4 linked regions of the Homo sapiens genome follow. The protein of the gene in region 4 interacts with the protein of the main gene of each other region in a pairwise test. Each region holds a gene or a part of one and is shown on either strand. Other genes may lie near its edges. The genes, in order: ZBTB16, KRTAP13-4, DNAJC5 and FCHO1.

Evidence for each region.
Region 1: the proteins of FCHO1 (region 4) and ZBTB16 interact in a two-hybrid assay, tested with the Homo sapiens proteins (one large-scale study listed by BioGRID and IntAct).
Region 2: the proteins of FCHO1 (region 4) and KRTAP13-4 interact in a two-hybrid assay, tested with the Homo sapiens proteins (one large-scale study listed by BioGRID).
Region 3: the proteins of FCHO1 (region 4) and DNAJC5 come close enough for resonance energy transfer, tested with the Homo sapiens proteins (one study listed by BioGRID).

What each region holds. Positions count from the first base shown.
Region 1 is NC_000011.10:114,066,094-114,069,961, forward strand, and holds part of ZBTB16 (zinc finger and BTB domain-containing protein 16), read left to right. Parts: intron 1-3,868. UniProt on the Homo sapiens protein: Acts as a transcriptional repressor. Transcriptional repression may be mediated through recruitment of histone deacetylases to target promoters. May play a role in myeloid maturation and in the development and/or maintenance of other differentiated tissues.
Region 2 is NC_000021.9:30,428,643-30,431,670, forward strand, and holds KRTAP13-4 (keratin-associated protein 13-4), read left to right. Parts: upstream 1-1,577; 5' UTR 1,578-1,633; coding exon 1,634-2,116; 3' UTR 2,117-2,384; downstream 2,385-3,028. UniProt on the Homo sapiens protein: In the hair cortex, hair keratin intermediate filaments are embedded in an interfilamentous matrix, consisting of hair keratin-associated proteins (KRTAP), which are essential for the formation of a rigid and resistant hair shaft through their extensive disulfide bond cross-linking with abundant cysteine residues of hair keratins.
Region 3 is NC_000020.11:63,901,395-63,905,262, forward strand, and holds part of DNAJC5 (dnaJ homolog subfamily C member 5), read left to right. Parts: intron 1-3,868. UniProt on the Homo sapiens protein: Acts as a general chaperone in regulated exocytosis. Acts as a co-chaperone for the SNARE protein SNAP-25. Involved in the calcium-mediated control of a late stage of exocytosis. May have an important role in presynaptic function.
Region 4 is NC_000019.10:17,754,477-17,758,344, reverse strand, and holds part of FCHO1 (F-BAR domain only protein 1), read right to left. Parts: intron 3,754-3,868; 5' UTR 3,664-3,753; exon of another isoform or gene 3,587-3,663; intron 3,228-3,586; 5' UTR 3,181-3,227; coding exon 3,154-3,180; intron 1-3,153. UniProt on the Homo sapiens protein: Functions in an early step of clathrin-mediated endocytosis. Has both a membrane binding/bending activity and the ability to recruit proteins essential to the formation of functional clathrin-coated pits.

The sequences.
Region 1 (3,868 bases), on a different chromosome or scaffold from region 4:
GTTTTGCTGATCTTGGGTGGATTCTCCACTTCCTCCCCCTTCACCCCCATTCCCCTGTTGCTCGTTCAGGTACGGGGGATGTGAGTGAGAGGGGTTGGGGTGGGGATATCTGGAAGTTGATCTCATCACCCCTAGCCGGAATCTGCTCTGACCCTGCCTCCTCGACAGCTCAGAGGCTTAACTTGTGGAAAGTGTGGCAGAGCTAAACGTAGCCGACTTTTTCCAGTGGGTGCGAAAAATAACCGCCACTAAGGTGTGTCTTCTTGATGCTTGTACCGCTCAGAAATAGACTGAGGTTGTGTTTGTTTTTGCTCAAACTTTCCTAAAGAGGAAACCCGCTCCCCAAAGTTGACCAGATAGATGTATCATCTTTCCGGATGTGAATTATTTCGGCTGTGTGCTATGAGAACTGGGTATGGTGGGAAGTAATTGTTTTTCTGGCTCTCATCAGGTCCTGGTTCCTGGTTGCTTTTCTTTACCCGAGAGGGCCACAAAAGATACCACTCTCCTGAGACTTCCAAGTTCCCCTTCAGCAAGACCCTCATTCCTCTGGGGAGAGAGGGAGAGTTGGCCATGTTATATTCGAAAGAGCCTGGGTATTGGAATTGGCCATATTTAGTGGTGAGAGCCTGTGATACTTATTTAACCTTTCTGGGCCTTGTTTCACTCACTACATTTTTTTTTTTTTTTTTTTTTGAGACGGAGTCTCGCTCTGTCACCGGGCTGGAGTGCAATGGCGTGATCTCAGCTCACTGCAGTCTCCACCTCCCGGGTTCAAGCGATTCTCCTGCCTCAGCCTCCTGAGTAGCTGGGACTACAGGCACCTGTCACCCCGCCCAGCTAATTTTTTGTATTTTTAGTAGAGACAGGGTTTCACCATGTTGGCCAGAATGGTCTCGATCTCTTGACCTTGCGATCCATCCACCTCGGCCTCCCAAAGTGCTGGGATTACAGCTGTGAGCCACCCCGCCCGGCCTTCACTCACTTCTTAAAATGGAGACGGTCAACAGGGTTGGTGCTGAATTAATGAAGTAAGATCCAGAAATCACTAGAGCTGTGATGGGCACATAGTCACCGCAGCGGTGGAGAACTGACCATCTGTCCCTTGTGTTGTTTAGGCCTCATCTCTGCATGGTCCTCATTGGCTCTGAGTTCTAGTGTGTAGTGTCCACAGTGCCACCCTCCATGAGGGTTGTGTTGACTGTGAGGTGGTGCAGAGAATGTCCCTGTCCTTGTGAGCATATGACAGCAAGACACTGGCCCTGGAATCCTCCGTGTCACATGTGGGCTGCTGACAGGAAGAATGTGCTTTTGTTGTTGTTGTTGTTGTTGAGGCAGAGTCTTACTCTGTCGCCCAGGCTGCAGTGCAGTGGCATGATCTTGGCTCACTGCAACCTCTACTTCCCGGGTTCAAGTGATTCTCCTGCCTCAGCCTCCTGAGCAGCTGGGACTACAGATGTGTACCACCATGCCCGACTAATTTTTGTATTTTTAGTAGAGATGGGGTTTCACCATGTTGGTCAGGCTGGCCTGGAACTCCTGGCCTTAAGTGATCCACCTGTCTCGGCCTCCCATAGTGCTGGGATTATAGGTGTGTGCCACCCTGCTGGGCCGAGAATGTGCTTTTGACTGAGGGTGGAAAGTCAGCAGCTGCAGCCCAAGAAGTTAGAGCCAGGGGCAGTGCCTTTGATGGGAAGCTTGGGGGTCTAAAGAAATCAGAAAGGGGAGAAAATAATCCTGCGTGTGCTCAGCCCTCACTCAGATCAACAGCCCCTCGGGTCCCAGCTAGATGTACTTTGTAGAAGGCTTTTTTTCTCCCCCTCACCCTCAAAACTCCAGGATTAATGTGCTATTCCCTTTTTTCTACTGTTCTCTGTCTCCCCCCAACCCATCAGCAGTCTGAGAAATGCTATGGTGGAAAAAAAAAAACAACAGCCCTATAACCAGTACAAACAAAAAGCCAAGACAAAAAAAAAAAAAAAATCAGAAGGGGAGATTTTGAGGCCAGGAAGCCATGGCATTCACTGGAAATATATCAGTGATAAAATAACAGGCTACAGGGTTTATTTTATTTTATTTTTAAGTCAATAGGCCTGAGTGTTGGTAAAGACTAGATACCCAGCAGTCCTTCTTGCATTTCTTCTTGGGGTGGGGGGGCAGAAGGGAATGGAGAGGAAATGAAGGCGGATTGCTGGTAAGTGAGGCAGGAAGGCAGGGAGTTTATTATGGAATGTCATCGGTAAGTTTCCCCATGATTTGATCCCAAGCTGGTGTGGAGTGAAGGGTAAGCTGTTGGCTCAACAGATAGTGAGAATCAAACTTAGTGGAGTTGTAGAGCCTGTTTCCTGCAGCGGACAGCAAGATGTACAAGCCGTCCACTGCAGGAATGACGTGCTGTAAAAGGGATGCAGTGTCAAGTGTAGTCATGGATGGGTGGGAAGACCAGACAAAGGCATCCAATGGGACTGACTTACCTAAACAAACCAGAAGGAAGTCAGAACAGTGGGAAGATCTGATAGATAAGCAGTATTCTGCAGGCAGATGAAGGAGCAAGCTTTGGGCCCCCAAATCTTCACCAGTGCATCCACATTACAGAGGATAATGCCTGAGGGAGGGGAAGATCATCTCAGGATTCTGGAACACTGGGCCCTCCCTTTCTTATTCCAAAAGGCTGGAGCAGTTCTGCATGTAGGCTTCTCTGGAAATGGTCTAGGAACCAGCTCATCCAGGCCAGGAGCACCTGATCATTCTCAGAGTTACGTACATATGCGATAAGATTGCAGGGAACAGTATAGTTCTATAGACTTAAGTGTGAACATAGTCCTCATTTATAGTCCCTAGTCTCCCATGGCTCACGCAGCTTGGTCTTTATGTGTTTCTGAATTTAGTGCTGCAGAGGCACAATGGGGTCTGGTTTCTGGATCTTATACAGACAAGCACTTAGGTCAGCTGCAGTGGATGTCCTGCACAGACACCGTCGCAACTCTTGCCTGGTTCCTTTTTGTTTTTGGAGATGGAGTCTCGCTCTGTCTCCCAGGCTGGAGTGCAGTGGCGCGATCTCAGCTCACTGCAAGCTCTGCCTCCCAGGTTCACGCTATTCTCCTGCCTCAGCCTCCCAAGTAGTTGGGACTACAGGCACCCGCCACCACGCCCGGCTAATTTTTTGTATTTTTAGTAGAGACAGGGTTTCACCGTGTTAGCCAGTATGGTCTCGATCTCCTGAACTCGTGATCCACCTGCCTCGGCCTCCCAAAGTGCTGGGATTACAGGTGTGAGCCACCACGCCCGGCCTATTGCCTGGTTCTTGAAGGGATTCTCAGGAACCACAGGGAATGTCTGAGCCAGCTTTCTGGATCCGTGTGTACAGCCCTTCCCAGAGGCTTTGTGGAGCCAGCTGTACGGTGCATGAGCTTTGTGGCTAAGATATCAGAGTTCTGCCTGGCCCTTGGCCTTGGTCTCTCTCAGATGGTCAGCTGCTCTGTTTTTAGTGGTTGATCATGTAGAAGGCCAACAGGTGTTGACCTTGGTTTAGGCTACTTTTGGGATTTTTGAGGTTTCCTGAGACTCTTGGTTTTCTTTCATCATCCCGTCCAGAACCTCTGATGTCAAACTAAATTCTGTTTGGAAAAGGGTATGCTGTAGAATAATGATAGCCACAGCAATGATATTAATAATACCTTTTATCGGTTGCAGCATTTTCTTCTTTGCAAAGCACCTCTAATGACTTTATCTCTCTTGCCCTCACAGCCTTCCTTGAGTGGGTACAGGTCCATAATCCCATATCTGTGATAATGAAGTCTGAAAAGCTCTGAAAACTAAAAAGTTTGCAGTAAACTCATTTAGTGGCAAAACCTGATCTGAACTGATG
Region 2 (3,028 bases), on a different chromosome or scaffold from region 4:
AGGGGAAATCAACTGCCATTGAAAAATAGAAAGTAACTCACTGAATAGATATTTGAATTGGCCATATTTGCTTCTTTCTTCATTCTTCCTTCTGGAAGGCCTATATTAAGTTACTTTTCAATATTGCCATACATTTTAATTGAGAAAATTTAATCGAGAAAATGTCTAACATTATTGTTGTAAGTTTATTATATTTTATTATAAAATAAAATGTCATCAACCATGACAGTACACTTTCTTTGGTCCTGAATATAATTTAACTACTTGTATTTCAACATAGAATATTTTGTGAATGAACTTACAAAGTGGCTATCCTCAAAGAATACGACAAAGCTGTCCAATTTTTATTTTTCAACATGGAATCTATAATTCAGCAGAGGCAAACAAACACATGAACAAAACATAAAATATAACAAGTAAAAAAAAGAAAAAAGATAAAATCAAACTTAAGCACAGAAAAAAGAAAGAAAAATAGAGGGAAAGAAAGTCAGAGGAAGAGAGAGAGAAAATAAGAGAGAAACATTCATATACCATGCAGAGGAAAAGAGGACTGGGGAACAAAGAAACTTCACATTTTCACAGGAAAATGTAGGATGGTACCTGGTTCTACAAGTGGCAAAAAGACACTGAAAGCCAGTAATATGGAAAGCTAGAGCCATTCTAAGAAGGTAGAAGTCCTGTATAATTACAAAAGTAGATGATAAATATATCAAAGTTCATAAGATTTGCTAATTTTGAAAATTTTTGCTCATAAAGACATTGAGACAAGACACATGACAGCTGGAATGCAATAGGAAAAAAAATTCTGAAATTCCTGAGCTTTCTCTTTGTTTCTCTTTCACTTGTTTCCTCCCTTCAGCAGACAAGCATTCGGGCTCTTTGGCTGAAGAGACATGACCTCAAATTGATCTTCTCTGTGACTGTGTTTCAATCGAGCTTCTTTTTGTTATCTCGTCTTTAAATAAATGGCAAGGTTTCTTTCAATTTCTAGCCATTTCTTTCTATCTCTTTGCTTTGCCTGTTCTTGATCTTTCTTCACTGGATATGAGACAGACTTTATAACTGTAGTACTTAATGTATTAATTTACTCTTACCGCCCTAAAAAATCACCACAAAGTAATTTTGGAGTATAGCAATCAATGGTGACAAGATGGATCATTTTCACAAAGGTTCTCATCCAGGTGGAAATTGCACCAGAAAGAAACTAACGTTATCTCATTCCCCACTCTTAAGAGGAAAACATCTACTAGCAAAGCCAGATGTGAATACACAGGAAAAGAGGCAGTTAGCATGTGCCAAAGAAATAGGAAGAGCTTTCCTTGTCATGATGAGCTAGACATTAATATAAAACAGTCATAGCATTTCTGACATAAGTACAGTTCATTGGCTTTGTGCTATAACACGAAAATTATAGCACCCATAAATACAATACATGGAAAACTATTCAAATGCAATTACAGACAAGATTACGCAGTTACACATATGTAAATGAGGGATCACAAATATGTAAAGGATGACCCTGTTGGGCACCACACCTATTGCTGAGAGGATATAAATGCCCTTGTCCAGGATGCGACATTAAAACTCAGAATCTTCTTAGGTACACTCAGCTGAACTCCCATCTCTCATCAGCATGTCCTACAACTGCTGCTCTAGAAACTTCTCCTCCCGCTCCTTTGGGGGCTACCTGTACTACCCAGGCTCCTACCCCAGCAGCCTGGTCTACAGCACTGCCCTCTGCTCTCCCAGCACCTGCCAGCTGCGTTCCTCTCTCTACAGGGACTGTCAGAAGACCTGCTGGGAGCCCGCCAGCTGCCAGAAATCCTGCTACCGCCCCAGGACCTCCATCCTCTGCTGTCCCTGTCAGACGACTTGCTCTGGATCTCTAGGCTTTCGGTCCAGCAGCTGTCGCTCCCAGGGCTATGGATCTAGGTGCTGCTACTCGCTGGGAAATGGATCCAGTGGCTTCAGATTCCTGAAATATGGAGGCTGTGGTTTTCCTTCCCTGAGTTACGGATCCAGATTCTGCTACCCAAACTACTTGGCTTCTGGAGCCTGGCAGTCTTCTTGTTACAGACCAATCTGTGGATCTCGCTTCTATCAATTCACCTGCTAAATTTCTAGATCCTTTTGAGTATTGGGATCAAAGTCTCTACTGAATGCAGCCATTATTTTCATTCTTGCCAGATCCCAATATCTTTTTATTCTTCCACCACCAGCTTCTTGCATGACCAACTTCTGGCAGACTGCGAAATTAATGAGTAACCTAATATTAACTTCTAATATCTTTACCATTGATCGAATATATGCTATCTGATTTTCATCCAAAAACTGTTGAAAATGGAAATTTTAATCTAATAAATGTATGTAATCTGGTACCCAAATATATTGTTCACATTGTTATTATTTTATTATTATTATTTTGCTTACATTTTTGCATTCAAGAATTTGGGAGATTTAAGTAAAAATCAATATGACTGTGTAACTGGATTTGGGGCCCATATAATCTGACAGATCTGAGAACATTTCTCTTGAAATTAGGTATGTTGTCTATTAAGAGTAATCATTTCTGGAAGAACATAGTTTGCATCTGCAGACTTGTCTCAACAGCAGTGAGAATTGTCTAAGAATGAAGGACATGCATTTCTACTGATATAGGAAAGCAGAAAATTTGATGCATAAACTAGAAATGCAGACAACAAGACTAGGATGTAATTTATAAGGTAAACTGTATGCTTGCACTAAAGGTTACTTAAAGTCTAGTATCTGAATGTGGATTTTCAACCAAGAGAAAAGTGAAGCTTAAGCACTGCTAGGACAGACGCTTTGCTCTTTGTTAGTAGACTTAAGTGCCAGGTTTCCTGCCTCCCACTGGTAAGGAGAGTCAGGATCATTCACCAATGATCTTAAGTGGGAATTATTGGGTCCAGGAGGCTTCGGTAACCTACCGATGCTTCTTCAAGGCTCAACCTTAATCAAGCTGACAGCAACACACCTGAGCCATGCTGAACAAGCATTTATATCCATT
Region 3 (3,868 bases), on a different chromosome or scaffold from region 4:
GAGAGCTCTCCCTGCCCTGTGCCTCTATTTTTTCACCAGGTAGGGTGGAAATGTGTTCTAGTGAAACTGCAGAACGAAAATATCCCGTCTTACTCTTGACCCTTGAAGAAGCAGGAGCTGAATTCAGGTGCCAGAGGCTGCGTCCGCGCGCTCCACATCAGTCTCAGAGTGGAGGCGAGCCCAGGCCAGAGGCCTCTACCCCGGACGAGGCTGCAGGTGCCTGACGGGAGGAGTGACTGCAGCTCAGCAGAGGGAGTGTGTGGAGTGTGCGGCCCTGCCTGGCTTTTATTTTGCTCCTCCTGTTATTGGGAGGGATTAGCAGCAGAGCGAATGTTTGGATCTTTGCTGAGCAGTCCCATCGGATTTTTCTTTATTAAATAGGATTGTGTTTTATTGTAAGAAGGTTTCCCTAAGACAAATAACGAAGGAAATTCTGGGTCCAGGAGTACAGACTGTAGCTTCTGTCATCTCTTGCCAAGTTCGTAGCCCTCAGATGGTGTCTGTCTTTCCCCTTTGCTTGCGGGGCCTTTTACCACAGCACTTTGGTGTTCTTTTAGCTGCTGCGATAGGACTAGCTGTTAAAATCTGAGATTTTACATTTTTGCCAGTCGCAATAAATTTTGTTAGTTCTTTCTTGATGTGTTCTTTAAAATAATAATGCTTTTTTTTTTTGGGTGGGGGACAGAGTCTTGTGCTGTCGCCCAGGCTGGAGTGCAGTGACGCGATCTCGGCTCACTGCAAGCTCCGCCTCCCGGGTTCACGCCATTCCCCTGCCTCAGCCTCCCGAGTAGCTGGGACTACAGGCGCCCGCCACCACGCCCGGCTAATTTTTCGTATTTTTAGTAGAGATGGGGTTTCACCGTGTTAGCCAGGATGGTCTCGATCTCCTGACCTTGTGATCCGCCCAGCTCGGCCTCCGAAAGTGCTGGGATTACAGGCGTGAGCCACTGCTCCTGGCCTCATCTTTTTTTTTTTTTTTTTTTTTTTTGAGACGGAGTTTCACTCTTGTTTCCCAGGCTGGTGGAGTGCAACGGTGTGATCTTGGCTCACCGCAACCTCTGCCTTCTGGGTTCAAGTGATTCTCCAGCCTCAGCCTCCTGAGTAGCTGGGATTACAGGCGTGTGCCACCACACCCAGCTAATTTTGTATTTTTAGTAGAGATGGGGTTTCTCCATGTTGGTCAGGCTGGTCTCGACCTCCCAACCTCAGGTGATCCACTCACCTCGGCCTCCCAAAGTGCTGGGATTACAGGCGTGAGCCAACGCACCTGGCCTCATCTTGTTTTTTTTTTTTTTTTTTGAGACAGAGTCTTGCTCTGTCGCCCAGGCTGGAGTGCAGTGACTCAGTCTCGGCTCACTGCAAGCTCTGCCACCTGGGTTCATGCCATTCTCCTGCCTCAGCCTCCCGAGTAGCTGGGACTACAGGCACCCGCCGCCACGCCCAGCTAATGTTTTTTGTATTTTTAGTAGAGACGGGATTTCATCGTGTTAGCCAGGATGGTCTCGATCTCCTGACCTCGTGATCTGCCCACCTCGGCCTCCCAAAGTGCTGGGATTAGAGGCGTGAGCCACCGCGCCCTGCCACATCCTGTTTTTTTTACAACAGGGTGTCACTCTGTCTCTCACCCAAGTTAGAGAGGAGTGACACAGTCTTAGCTCACTGCATTCTCCCAGGCCCAAGCAATCCTCCTATCTCAGCCTCCCAAGTAGCTGGGACTTTAGGTATGTGTCACCACAGTTGACTAATGTTTTAATTTTTGTAGAGATGGGGCCTCCACATGTTGCCCAGGTTGGCCTTCCTGGGCTCGATCCTCCTGCCTCAGCCTCCCAAGGTGGTGCATGCCTACAGTCTCAGTAGATTAGAATCACCCTAACCCTCAGTAACTGAGATTGTAGGCACGCACCACCTCACTGACTCACCTCAAACTCTCTTTTTTGAGATGGAGTCTCTGTCACCAGACTGGAGAGCAGTGGTGCGATCTTGGCACACTGCAACCTCCGCCTCCTGGGTTCAAGCGATTCTCCTGCCTCAGCCTCTGTAGCAGCTGGGACTACAGGCATGCGCCACTACGCCCGGCTGATTTTTGTATTTTTTAGTAGAGACGGGGTTTCACCATGTTGGCCAGGATGATCTCGATCTCTTGACCTCATGGTCTGCGCACCTTGGCCTCCCAAAGTGCTGGGATTACAGGTGTGAGCCACTGCGCTCGGCCCATCTCAAACTTTTAATAAGGCTCTTCGTATAGAAATTTTTAAAAAATTAAAAACATTTTTGGCCAGGCTTAGTGGTTTAAGCCTGTAATCCCAGTGCTTTGGGAGGCCAAGGCAAGCAGATTACATGAGGCCAGGAGTTTGAGACTAGCCTGGCCAACATGGCGAAACCACGTCTCTACTAAAAATACAAAAATTTGGGCAGGTGCAGTGGCTGACACCTGTAACCCCAACACTTTGGGAGGCTGAGGTGGATAGATCTCTCGAGTTCAGGAATTTGAGACCAGCCTGGGTAACATGAGGAAACCCCATCTCTGCAGAAAATACAAAAGTTAGCTGGGCGTGGTGGTGCATGCCTGTGGTCCCAGCTACTCGAGAGGCTGAGGTCAGGCTGAGGTGGGAGGATCCCTGGAGCCTGGGAAGCGGAGGTTGCAGTGGGGGATGAAAAAGAATACCCCGTGTCCAAATAGCAAAACACTCTGAAATGAGGCAAACCGTGGTTTGTTGAACAGGTGTTCTGGGACAAGGTTGCCGAATATGCATTAGCCGTAATCCCCAGGACAGCCATGCAGGGTGGGTCTTAAACAGTTTTTTAGATTCTCGAGTATAAAGGTATAATATTGAAGAATAAGCACAAATAATGTCATCATACATGTTAAAGTGACAACACAGGATTTACAAAATTACCCTTTTTTCCCCAAAATTACCTCTTACGATGTGGTTTCTGTTGGTGCTGTTTTCTCTTGCATCATCCCGCCAGGTTGGGTAACCCTAACTGATTGTCACCAGCAGACCAACAGACAGACTCACAGCATCCTTCTCCCTGGTGTGAGCACTGCTTAATTCACATTTATGAAAATACTTTAAGACAAGGGCACTGTAACTCACATAGAATCTGAAGTGGCCTTGAACAGGGAGCTGGTCCAGCTGCCTCTTAGTGTGTCTGACCTCCAGGTGGGCGGACTGAGATGCGTGCAGGTGTTCATGGTATAGGCATCCTTGTAAACCTGCTCTGGTTAAGGATAAATAGGCAAAGTTGTGCTAATGCTGTTCCTACAGCAGCCTTTGCCCTGGACTGACTCCAGAACAGCTGGCTGACTGACAGCTGCCTCCCAGTAAAGCCTTAAACAGGCTTATCTTATATTTTTAAAAGGCAAAGGACAATAAGGCAGATTAATAAACTGTGGGGGTTTTTTTGTTTGTTTTTGTTTTTCTTGAGACAAAGTCTCGCTGTTGTACCCCAGGCTGGAGTGCAACGGCGCGATCTCGGCTCACTGCAACCTCTGCCTCTCGGGTTCAAGCGATTCTCCTGCCTCAGCCTCCAGAGTAGCTGGGATTACAGGTGCCCGCCACCACGCCCGGCTAATTTTTGTATTTTTAGTCTAGACGGGGGTTTCACCATGTTGGCCAGGCTGGTCTCGAACTCCTGACATCAGGTGATCCGCCTGCCTCGGCCTCCCAAAGTGTCAGGATTATAGGGTGAGCCACCGTGCCTGGCTTTTTTTTTTTTTTCCTGTCTTTTGTGTATGTGATGGGGTCTCGCTCTTGTCGCCCAGGCTGGAGTGCCATGGCACGATCTCGGCTCACTGCAACCTCTGCTTCCCGGGTTCAAGTGACTCTCCTGCCTCAGCCTCCTGAGTAGCTGGAACTGCAGGTGT
Region 4 (3,868 bases):
ACATCCTTCCACTTCCCAAGGATCATTGCCACCTGCTCTAGAAACTTCCCTAACCCTGCTCAACCCCCTCCCCCACTTCACTGTTGCTCCCTCCAGCTCGCCAGGAATACGTTTTCTCTTTTTTTTTTTTGAGACGGAGTCTCACTCTGTCACCCAGGTTGGAGTGCAGTGATGCGATCTTGGCTCACTGCAAGCTCTGTCTCCTGGGTTCACGCCATTCTCCTGCCTCAGCCTCCTCAATAGCTGGGACTACAGGTGCCCGCCACCATACCCGGCTAATTTTTTGTATTTTTAGTAGAGACGGGGTTTCACTGTGTTAGCCAGGATGGTCTCGATCTCCTGACCTTGTGATCCGCCTGCCTCGGCCTCCCAAATGCTGGGATTACAGGTGTGAGCCACCGCACCCGGCTTTTTTTTTTTTTTTTTTTTGAGACAGGGTCTTGCTCTGTCGCCCAGGCTGGAGTCCAGTGGTATGATCTTGGCTCACTGAAACCTCTGCCTCCCAGGCTCAAGCGATCCTCCCACCTCAGCCTCCCAAGTAGCTGGGACCACAGGTGCGCGCCACCACACCCAGCTAATTTTTTGTATTTTTAGTAGAGACGGGGTCTTGCTATGTTGCCCAGGCTGGTCTCAAAGTCCTGGGCTCAGGCGATCCGCCATCTCAGCTTCTCAAAGTGTTTGGATTACAGACGTGAGCTACCACGCTCCACCTATATTTTCTCTTCTTGTGTTTGGAATTATATTTTCAAAGTTCAAGTGTCCAATCTCCTTATACGTACAGGGTCACTTTGGGTTGGTGACTTCGTCTCTCTGGCCTCAGTTTCCTTCCTTGTGTGACAAATGGGGACAACAACAGCACCCAACTCCCAAGGGTCTTGCTGGGATGAGGCTGGCACAGTGCTGGCCCCAGGAGATCCTCGGGTGAGGCTGCACCAGGCACCACCGCCCAGAGCAGCATCTGGGTCTGACTCAGAGCCAACTGCTGGCCCGTTTCCCAGACCTGGCAAACCCCCAGCAGCGTCTGCCTCTCTTGGACTGGGCTGGCAGCCGAGGGTCCTAGGAGGGGCTGTCTCAGGTCTGTCTCTCCCACCAGAACTTCTAGACTTCAGACTTGGCCTCTGTGCCAGCCAAAATGTGGTCTTTTTTTTTTTTTTTTTTTTTTAGACGGAGTCTCACTCCATCACCCAGGCTGGAGTGCAGTGGCGCGATCTCACTGCGACTTCCACCTCCCGGGTTCAAGCAATTCTCCTGCCTTAGCCTCTCGAGTAGCTGGGACTACAGGCTCATGCTACTATGCCCGGCTAATTTTTGTATTTTTAGTAGAGATGGGGTCTTGCCATGTTGGCCAGGCTGGTCTCCAATTCCTGACCTCAGGTGATCCGCCTCCCTCGGCCTCCCAAAGTGCTGGGATTACAGGCATGAGCCACTGCGCCCAGCCAAGAGTGTGGTCTTTGTAACAGAGCTTGTTTATGTCCCTCTCCTGCTCACACTTCCCCCATGGCTCCCTAGTACACTTCATGCTTCGGCCCTGCCCTGGCGCAATGAGACTGGGGCATCCCTGTTTGGCTTAATCTCCCCAGCACCACCCAGCAAAGAACCAGGCTTCTATGGCGGCTTCAATACTAGCAACTGATGACAGATGTCACAGGAGGCCTCCCTGAGTCTGGGGGTGTGTGGGGTGCATGGGGTGGGAGTGGCGGTGCAGGAATTTCATCCCTTTTTCCCAGATGGGGAAACAGAGGTTCGGGCAGGCAAAGTCATTTGCTCAAGGGCTTCCAGCAGAGTCAATTCGAATCCTGAACTCAAAGCTCTTAACCATTCTCTACCAGGATATCTTTGGGTGAGGTGGGGAAGTCGGGGGTGGTTTCTATTTTCTCTTTGCTGATCTGAATTTTCTGCAGCGAGCCTGCACGCCTCACACAATTAAAAAGGATTTAAAATAAATGTAGGTGCCACTGTCGGGGTTCCAAAATGCAGGTGACTTTTGATCCTCAAATGGTCACCTCCATTACACGGCAGTACTAAAAGGAGCTCAGAAAGGGGTAGCCCCTCACTGGAGTCACACAGCCTTTCAGGGGCAAATCGGGGAGTCTGACCTTTGGAGAGAGGGCGGAGGTCACACCCCTGCAGGTGGCAAGGGAGTGCGGCCCCTTTAAGAAAGCAAGTGCTTTCAAGAGGAGCCCCAGCTGGGGAGGGAGCAAGGGCAGGAGTGGGGCTTGTTGCCAGGGGCAACCAGTCGCCTAGCAACAGGCTTCCTCACTGCAAGCTCAGGGCCTGCAACTGGGGAAGGGGCTTTCTGACCTGGTCCTTCCCTGACTCCTGGGCCCTCCCCTGTTCACCCATCCTCTGTGGCACCCTGTTAGCCTGGCTCTGCAGGAGGAGTCCCTGTTCCCTGAACTTGCCACTCAATGTCACATCTCTGGTCTTTTGCCCAGGCTTTCTCACAGCAAACACGATTCTGTGTCCTGGTTCCTACTCTAGGACCCCCAAGGCTGGGTTCAGCCCTGGTCCTGCAGGGCTGAAGGTGTCTAAGCTGGCTCTGGGTCCCCCAGACTGGGGACTCCTCCCTTGGGGCTGGGGCTGGGATGGATTCTCTTGGAGACCCCAGCATCTCCTAGGGCTGGCTGGGGATGAGGTCACAGTGGCAGGGAGAGAGGAAATGAATGAATAAAAACAACTCTGTCTCACTCAGCAGCCCTTGGGCTACAGGAGGTGATCTCCAGCCTGGACAGTGGAGGGGTGCACAGGCCATGAGACGCCAGGTCAGGAAAACCCCCCAATTCTCCAGGATGGGAAGGGGGTGGAAGTTCCCTGGCTGGAATGACCCTGGGTCCTGGAAGTTCAGTTTGGCCCTGGGTTTGAGCACTGACTCTGCACTTTTTCATGGGGCAACTTCAGGTTGCCTAGACGTTCCCACTCTGGCCCTTGGTCTCCCTATGACACAAGCTATGACTTGCCCAAGGTTGTAAGGCCTGTGAGGTCTGGGGTGGGTGTGGATTCAAACCCAGCCTGACTCTTCCCACTTTAACTTCCATCCCTTGCAGATCCTCTACCTGTCCAAGGCTGTAACCGCAACTCACCCAGTCCTCCCATCTCCATAAAAGTCCCCACAGCCCTGCCAGCATCCCCCGCCTAAATAAGAGTGGGTCTTACCCAAAAATGCTCCCCAAAATACGACATCCTGATGGTCTCTGTGGAGACCCCTGCAGGCCCCGTCCAGTGCCTGTCTGAAGAGAGAGGCAAGTTTGAGCTACAGAGTCATTGCCAGTGTGGGCTTGGTGGGGGGAAAGTCCCTCCCTGTAGAGGAAGGAGAGAAAGGATGAAGGAGGAACTGAAAGCTCCAATGCTAAGAGCATGCCAGGACCCCTGAGATAATTCAGCCCCAGTGCTGGTCCCAAGTAGCTCCAGTAGAGGGGGACAGAACAAGACACAGATGCCCCCAATTCCACAGAGTCAGAACTGGACTAGGTGGAGGGACAAGAGCTGAGGGAGTCTAGATTGGAGGAGGGGGCATGGAATGTGGGGTTTTTAGGCATGTATAAGAGTTCATAGCAGTGGGTAGGAGCAGTGCTGGATGACCCCTAACCTTGACAGGAAAGCTCTGATCCACTTCACAGATGGGAAAACTGAGCCCTCCCCTCCCCCAGAGGGGAAGTCACTTGCCAAGATCACACAGCTAGGAAGGGACAGTAGATTTGCACTCTGGACTGGCTGAGCCCAGACCTGAGCTCTCAGCTCCACTCCAGGCAGCTCCTGCAGGAAAAGGGTTTGAAGAGAAATAGATGCAGGGGCTGTGATCAGCCACATGGGGGTTGGGGTCCCTGAAGTATCCCTGAGGGTCCCCTGGGATCTTCTGATTCCTCTAGGA